Homo sapiens: one gene and its partner. The protein of the gene in region 2 interacts with the protein of the main gene of each other region in a biochemical or structural test. Each region holds a gene or a part of one and is shown on either strand. Other genes may lie near its edges.

Region 1 (4,022 bases), on a different chromosome or scaffold from region 2:
CGCCACTGCACTCCAACCTGGGCTTCAGAGCAAGACCCTGTCTCAAAAAAAAAAAAAAAAAAAAAAGGTCCCAGGGCCTGTTGGGGCTTGGGGGTGAGGGGAGGGATCTTAGAGGATGGGTCAATAGGTGCAGCAAATCACCATGTCACACATATACCTATGTAACAAACTTGCACCTTCTGCACATATACCCCATTTTTTTTGTTTGCTTGTTTGTTTGTTTTTTAGACAAAATAAAGAAAAAAAAATAAGGTCCTGTTGACTTAAAACTTCGGATGAAATTGTAGTGGGACCTGTGATCTGTTTCTACATTAGGATACAGTGCCTTGGGGCAAGGAAATATGGCAGTGCCCGAGGTGTCAAGGTGGGCAGGCAGATCAGTCAGCAGGGGCTCCACCATCATGGTCTGCATTCAATACTGGCTGCATTTCCTAGGAGAATCCCTGGGGGAATCATTGCAGTTGGAGCATAATGTAGGGGGCCCCTGAGAAAACCTCCAGGCTTCAAGTGACATACCTAGTCTGCTTTACCGGTTTACAGGACTCAAGAGAAAGGTGGACATTGAGAGTTAATCCCTGAGGCCAAATCTTAAATGGAGAAAGTCAACATCCACAGAAAATGGGGAAGGGCACAAGTATTTCTGTGGGCTTATATTCCGACATTTTTATCTGTAGGGGAAAAATGCTTTCTTAGAAAATGACTCAGCACGGGGAAGTCTTGTCTCTACCTCTGTCTTGTTTTGTCCTTTGGGGTCCCTTCACTATCAAGTTCAACTGTGTGTCCCTGAGACTCCTCTGCCCCGGAGGACAGGAGACTCGAAAAACGCTCTTCCTGGCCAGTCTCTTTGCTCTGTGTCTGCCAGCCCCCAGCATCTCTCCTCTTTCCTGTAAGCCCCTCTCCCTGTGCTGACTGTCTTCATAGTACTTTAGGTATGTTGTCCCTTTACCTCTGGGAGGATAGCTTGATGACCTGTCTGCTCAGGCCAGCCCCATCTAGAGTCTCAGTGGCCCCAGTCATGTTGAGAAAGGTTCTTTCAAAGATAGACTCAAGATAGTAGTGTCAGAGGTCCCAAGCAAATGAAGGGCGGGGACAGTTGAGGGGGTGGAATAGGGACGGCAGCAGGGAACCAGATAGCATGCTGCTGAGAAGAAAAAAAGACATTGGTTTAGGTCAGGAAGCAAAAAAAGGGAACTGAGTGGCTGTGAAAGGGTGGGGTTTGCTCAGACTGTCCTTCCTCTCTGGACTGTAAGAATATGTCTCCAGGGCCAGTGTCTGCTGCGATCGAGTCCCACCTTCCAAGTCCTGGCATCTCAATGCATCTGGGAAGCTACCTGCATTAAGTCAGGACTGAGGTGGGTCTGGGGTATGGCAGGGGCTGGGCAGCAGCAGCAATGTACCTTGCTTGGGACCCCTAAAAACCAGAGAGACAGCATGGCTGGTGCCATTTATCAGCTAGTGGAGGAGGCTGACGGAGGGTGGGAGTGTCATCAGCACAAGGCCCTGGCAGTCCCTTCTGGTGATTAGAGAGGCCGAAAGGGTCCTTTCCGACAAGGGCTGAGGGTGGGCGGAACAGGAAGAGAAAAATGTGACATGAGGTGACCATCCGAACAGGTAGCAAATGTTAGAAAGGGGTACCTCTGGCAAACTTAGTGGAAAAGTAATATTGCAGGGAGCAGTCAGATAAAAACAAGCCCTTCTGTCAAATAGTGCTTGAAGACTCAATAGGGATACATGGGTCAATGAAGCCTTTAGAAAAAGAAATACTAAGAGGCAGATTCTCTGAGAACATGGTAAAAGCTCACGCTCCACGTTATGAAGTTGACCTTTGTGAGCTAGGGAAAGGCCTGGCTAGGCCAGGGTGTAGGCTACCTGCCTTGAGCTGTACCAGGCCAAATGTCGCCAGGGTCAGAGCTGGCTTATTAAAGGACTGTGTGGAAGCTGTGCCAACCTCGTGGTAACAATGGGTAAAAGACTGGGCCAGGAGAAAGCAGCCTCTGCCTCAGCCCAGACAGTGCGGCCAACCCTTGAGGTTGTGGCAAAGGTTTCTCCTCTTACCATTGCCCTCCATGTGCATGGCTTGCTTTTCTCTTGTCTTCATTATTTCTCCTTTCCTTTCCTCCTCTCCAACCTCCTCCTCTTCCCACTCATCCTCTTTTCTCTACCTATATCCCCTCTTCATTATACCCTCCTCTGTTCTGTTGATTACCAGACCCTGACATACAGTTAGCACTTAACAAATAATTGCCGAATTGCATTGACTTTTTCTTGCTCCTTTCTTCCCCCGCTCTTTTCCCTTTTCCTTTCCCTTTCCATTTCCTCCTCCCTGCCTGCCTAGCACCTTCCCCATAAGGTGGTTGTGAGCAGTAAATGTGCAAATACATGTAAAGCTTTTAAAACAGGGCCTGGCAATAGTAAGTGCTGGATCTCAGTATTTGCTATAATTTTTACTCTGCCTCAGACCTGCCAATGTCCCCCAGAGGGCCTACCTAGAGCAAATAATATGACATTTAGAATAAAAGTGATTGGTGACCCCAATCAAGACATCCTTGGATAAGTTGCCCAGACTCCAGCCTCTCTGGAGCCTCAGTTATTTGATAAAATAATGTCACTTTCCAAATAAGCCACAAAATGCAAATACTCATGGCAACCTAAAGCATTATACCCAAACAGTGTCCCTTAGGGCTTGTCCTGTCTATTCTGACTCCTTTTATATTCAAACTATTTAAACTGCTTGCTTGTGTTGAAGTCCAAATTTCCATTGCGTATGGCTATTGATATTTTTGTTTGGAATTTTTTTTTTTTTTTTTTGACACGGAGTTTCACTCTTGCTGCCCAGGCTGGAGTGCAATGGCACGATCTCGGGATCTCAGCTCACCGCAACCTCCGCCTCCCGGGTTCAAACAATTCTCCTGCCTCAGCCTCCCAAGTAGCTGGGATTACAGGCATGTGCCACCACGCCCAGCTAATTTTGTATTTCTAGTAGAGACGGGGTTTCTCCATGTTGGTCAGGCTGGTCTCGAACTCCCAACCTCAGGTGATCTGCCTGCTTGGGCCTCCCAAAGTGCTAGGATTACAGGCGTGAGCCACCGCACCCACCCTGGAATTCTTTGTAAACTCCTTATGGTGCGAACTAATGTAACTTTCCATCCAGTTATGGGGGATTGGTGCAATTTTAAATTATCACTATGATTTGCTATTTCCATTTGAGCAAATTTCCTATAGAGTTTCCTTTCAGTGGACTAGACCCATATCAGGAAGTGACTTAGGTATAAAGGGAAGATACAGCTTTCGAAAACCAAAGTTTGGGCGTTCTCCAAAGAGTTATCAGATACCCCCTTCTACACCCACAATGATCTGATTGCTGAGATCTGATTGCTAACTACTGAAAATAAGGAAGAACTAGAATTTTCAGTGACACAGTGCTCAGCAAGAAGCTAGAAAAGAGGCCTTGACATATTTGACTCCAAAGCTACTTGGTTATGCATGAAGCCATCTGGGGAGGGGAAGGAGGAGGGAGAACTCCTCTGAGGACCCTGAAACAATTGGGCCACGTGTGACTTTCAGTTTCTATGGAGATTCATGTGCAGTGGCTGAGGGCAATCTGAGAGCATTGGAAACCCAGAAGCTTTAATACCAGGCTCTTCTCTCCGCTCTTAGAAAGTTCTCACAAGATGTCTTTAGGATTATATTGGTTATTTGAATCTCAAGGAGAAGCTCCTCTCACTGCCCTACCTCCCTGAACTGAAAACAAACTGTAGTCTGTTAGCTCACCCTAGAAGAAGGAAATTCTAGAGTCAAGAGAAGTTAAGTTTTAGACAAGCTGGAAGTTGGAATATACTGGAGTTTAAGATCATTGACTCAATGAAAAAAAAAAAAGATTTGTCTGCAGTAAAACCAGAGTTTTAAAAATGATTAGAAATGGACCAGAAAAGAGATAAGGATAATGAGAAAGGGGGCTCTCTAAAACTATTTGGAACTGAAATTGGGACAATGTTTCTGGAAACTATTTTGGCAGTATGTAT
Region 2 (3,500 bases):
CTTTTATCTACATCTGTCTTGGCCGCTGTATGAATACCATCATATGGTAATTTTTTCATTGAAATTTCTTTAGAAACCTATGTTAATCTAGCTCATTTCAGTGTCTTTAACATAAAGAAATTTGAATGTCCATTGTCAGTTTTTTTTCTTGGCCTTTTAACTGGTAGAAGACATTTTGAAATTAATAAACTGGAATGAAATTTTGGTGATTCTTCTTTACAGATACTCGTGGCTTTGCGGCACCTTCATTTTAAAAATATCGTTCACTGTGACCTCAAACCAGAAAATGTGTTGCTAGCCTCAGCTGATCCTTTTCCTCAGGCAAGTATAAAAGCCTCTCTCAGCAAAAAGCCAGTTGGAAGCATTGCTAGCTTCCATGTAGCATCTTGTCACCTTCCATTTTTCCCTTAAAACCTTTATTTGTTTCAAGTGTTTTCTATCCATTTTTATTCATTTGTTACTTTGGGACTATGGCCTTGTTACTCTGGCCTTTTGGTGAAGCATGCCTTAATTATACACAAAAGTGCCTTCTCATTCTGCCTTTTGGCTTTTCCGGAAGTGGCCTGAGAGTGACAACACTTGAGAGTCCCAGAGATGTTACCTGCTCATTAATGGGCAAGATATTAAACCTCACTGTTGTTCTCAAGGACAAGGGCAAAACTTTTTTCCTTTCCTCAACTTAGAGAGTGGGAAACCAGCTATCTCCGCAGGGAATTATAGGTCTGAAGTGACTTGACTGATGTGACTGTCCTGCCTTGCTTCCCTAACACCTTCCGGTCCTGCCTATATATGTGCCAGTGCAGAGCTAATTTTGAGGATTATTGTGGATGACATGACACATCTCTGTACTTATCCTTCATCTTCTTCTCATAATAAGCGCTTGAGTGAAGGTCATCACTTCCCAGATTTGCATAACGCTTTCCTGCCTTGTATACAATATTACCCACTTCTGAGTACACTTGTCTTCATATTTGTCTCTCGGTTTTTGGAGGAGGGAGACTGTTTTTATTTTTTCATTTATTTTTATTTTATTTTATTTTATTTTATTTTATTTTATTTTATTTTATTTTATTTTAGACAGAGCACTCTGTTGCCCCAGGCTGGAGTGGAATGGTGCAGTCTCAGCTCACTGCAACCTCTGCCTCCCAGACTCAATCAATCCTCTCACCTCAGCCTCTCGAATAGCTGGGACTATAGCTGCACACCACTACGCCGGGCTAATTTTTTAATTTTTTGTAGAGATGGGGGTCTCACTATGTGCCTAGACTGGTCTTGAACTCCTGTCCTCAAGCAATCCTCCTGCCTCAGCCTCCCAAAATGTTAGAATTACAGGCATGAGCCACTGCACCCTGCCAAGGGAGACTGTTTAGATGATATTTTTATGAATGAAAACATACTTTTGTATCACTACATAAACCACTGTCTTCAAATACCTAAAATGGAAAATAGCTATTACTTTAAGAAATCCATATCATTTAATGTAAAGGTAAAGTATTTAAAATATTATGGTTGTATCTGGTGAATCTGAACTAAGACACACAGACACACAATTGTGAACGGAGTATTTCTGCAAATCCTTTCATCAACAGGTGAAACTTTGTGATTTTGGTTTTGCCCGGATCATTGGAGAGAAGTCTTTCCGGAGGTCAGTGGTGGGTACCCCCGCTTACCTGGCTCCTGAGGTCCTAAGGAACAAGGGCTACAATCGCTCTCTAGACATGTGGTCTGTTGGGGTCATCATCTATGTAAGCCTAAGCGGCACATTCCCATTTAATGAAGATGAAGACATACACGACCAAATTCAGAATGCAGCTTTCATGTATCCACCAAATCCCTGGAAGGAAATATCTCATGAAGGTAATATCTTCCATTCAAAAATGATAATAATCTAATCCTTATTTGTTTATGTTATTAATTTAAATTAATTTAATTGTAAATTATTAACTTAATACATGCTCATTGTAAAGTGCCCACCAGAGTGGAGACACAAAGACACGAATTAATTTGGGTGGGACACATACACATAACAGAAATTGGGTTATATATATTAAGAAGTAAGTGAACAACCAGAGAGAATGTATTTTGGTACATTTCATTAGAACTTATAAATACTTATACCTTAATATAATAGTAATAATGAATTATTAGTAAGGGCTTACTTATATGTGCCTAGTTCTGTGTTAAAAACTTTTAAACTATTATCAACACAAGAATGTTATGACATTGATATTTTAATGATCATATAACATATGTTAGTATACCAAGTTCTTTGTCTACTGGTTTTCTTTGTGTGGCATTAAAATATGTATAATATTTTACTTGGCCATTCCCCTGGAATTTTTAGGTTATTTCTCTATGTTTAGTATTAGAACATCCTGATGTATCATTCCTATATATATCTCTGATGATTTCTTTAGAATAGATTACCTTGACAGTGTTGCATTGTTTAGAGTTATATTCTTAATAAATATTTCCTTCCTCTTAAAGGACAAAAGATTGTTTAAAAGAAATTGCAGGGGCTGACAGGGCAGAGAAAGTGACTCATTCAGTACTTCGGAAAGGAGTTCCTCCTTTAACATACATTGGAGTGTATTTAATTCTCATAAAAATTCTATAAGATAGGTGTTACTATGATGGCTATATTTCAAGTGTGGATCACGAGGTCAGAGGTTCAAGATCAGCTTGGCCAATAGGGTGATACCCCATCTCTACTAAAAAATACAAAAATTAGCTGAGCGTGGTGGCACGTGCCTGTAGTCCCTGCTACTCAGGAGGCTGAGGCAGGAGAAGCGCTTGAACCAGGGAGGTGCAGGTTGCAATGAGCTGAGATTGCACCACTGCACTCTAGCCTGGGCAACAGAGTAAGACTCCATCTCAAAAAAAAAGAAGTGACACCACTGGTCAAAATACAAAGCTAGTAAGTAGCAGGGGCATAATTCTTACCCAGGTAGTCTGAACATACTTTTTTTCAGTACTAGCCCTACGTCTTTTCTAGTTTACAGGCAATATCTAGTTCTAGGTTCATTCTGTTTGTTCAGATGTTCACCATGTGAAAAGGCTAGTACATTTGTAAACATCTCTTATGTGATGCCTGTTACTGCATATGTTGGTATAGAAATGAGAAAAGAATGTACAAACCGCTTAGGAGAAATTAAGTTATTAGACTGCTATTGGTATTAAATGACAAGAGCTATCCATTATCAGAGCTTTAAGTTACCATTAGCAACAACCTTTAACATCCTCTAATTAGTTGTAAATCATAGGTGGATGGATATATCTTAAAGGAACCTGTGGCCTACAAAAGAGCTATCATGTGTGCCAAAGGAATAATTAAATATTTTTCATAATTCAACAAAGATGAAAAGTAAAGTGTAATTAAGTTTCTTTCCCAGGAGACAGAGAGAATTATCAAATAACCTTGTGACCAGTACCCTTGTTAGGAAACATTACATCTAAATACAGCTAACCATTATGCTTGATATTGCTCATCTAGAAATCCA

Evidence for each region. Proteins that work in one complex are often made in the same cells at the same time.
Region 1: the proteins of PRKD1 (region 2) and BTK form a complex in vitro, tested with the Homo sapiens proteins (one study listed by BioGRID).

What each region holds. Positions count from the first base shown.
Region 1 is NC_000023.11:101,383,392-101,387,413, reverse strand, and holds the start of BTK (tyrosine-protein kinase BTK), read left to right. Parts: upstream 1-1,222; 5' UTR 1,223-1,352; intron 1,353-4,022. UniProt on the Homo sapiens protein: Non-receptor tyrosine kinase indispensable for B lymphocyte development, differentiation and signaling. Binding of antigen to the B-cell antigen receptor (BCR) triggers signaling that ultimately leads to B-cell activation.
Region 2 is NC_000014.9:29,595,848-29,599,347, reverse strand, and holds part of PRKD1 (serine/threonine-protein kinase D1), read left to right. Parts: intron 1-222; coding exon 223-321; intron 322-1,589; coding exon 1,590-1,857; intron 1,858-1,871; exon of another isoform or gene 1,872-3,500.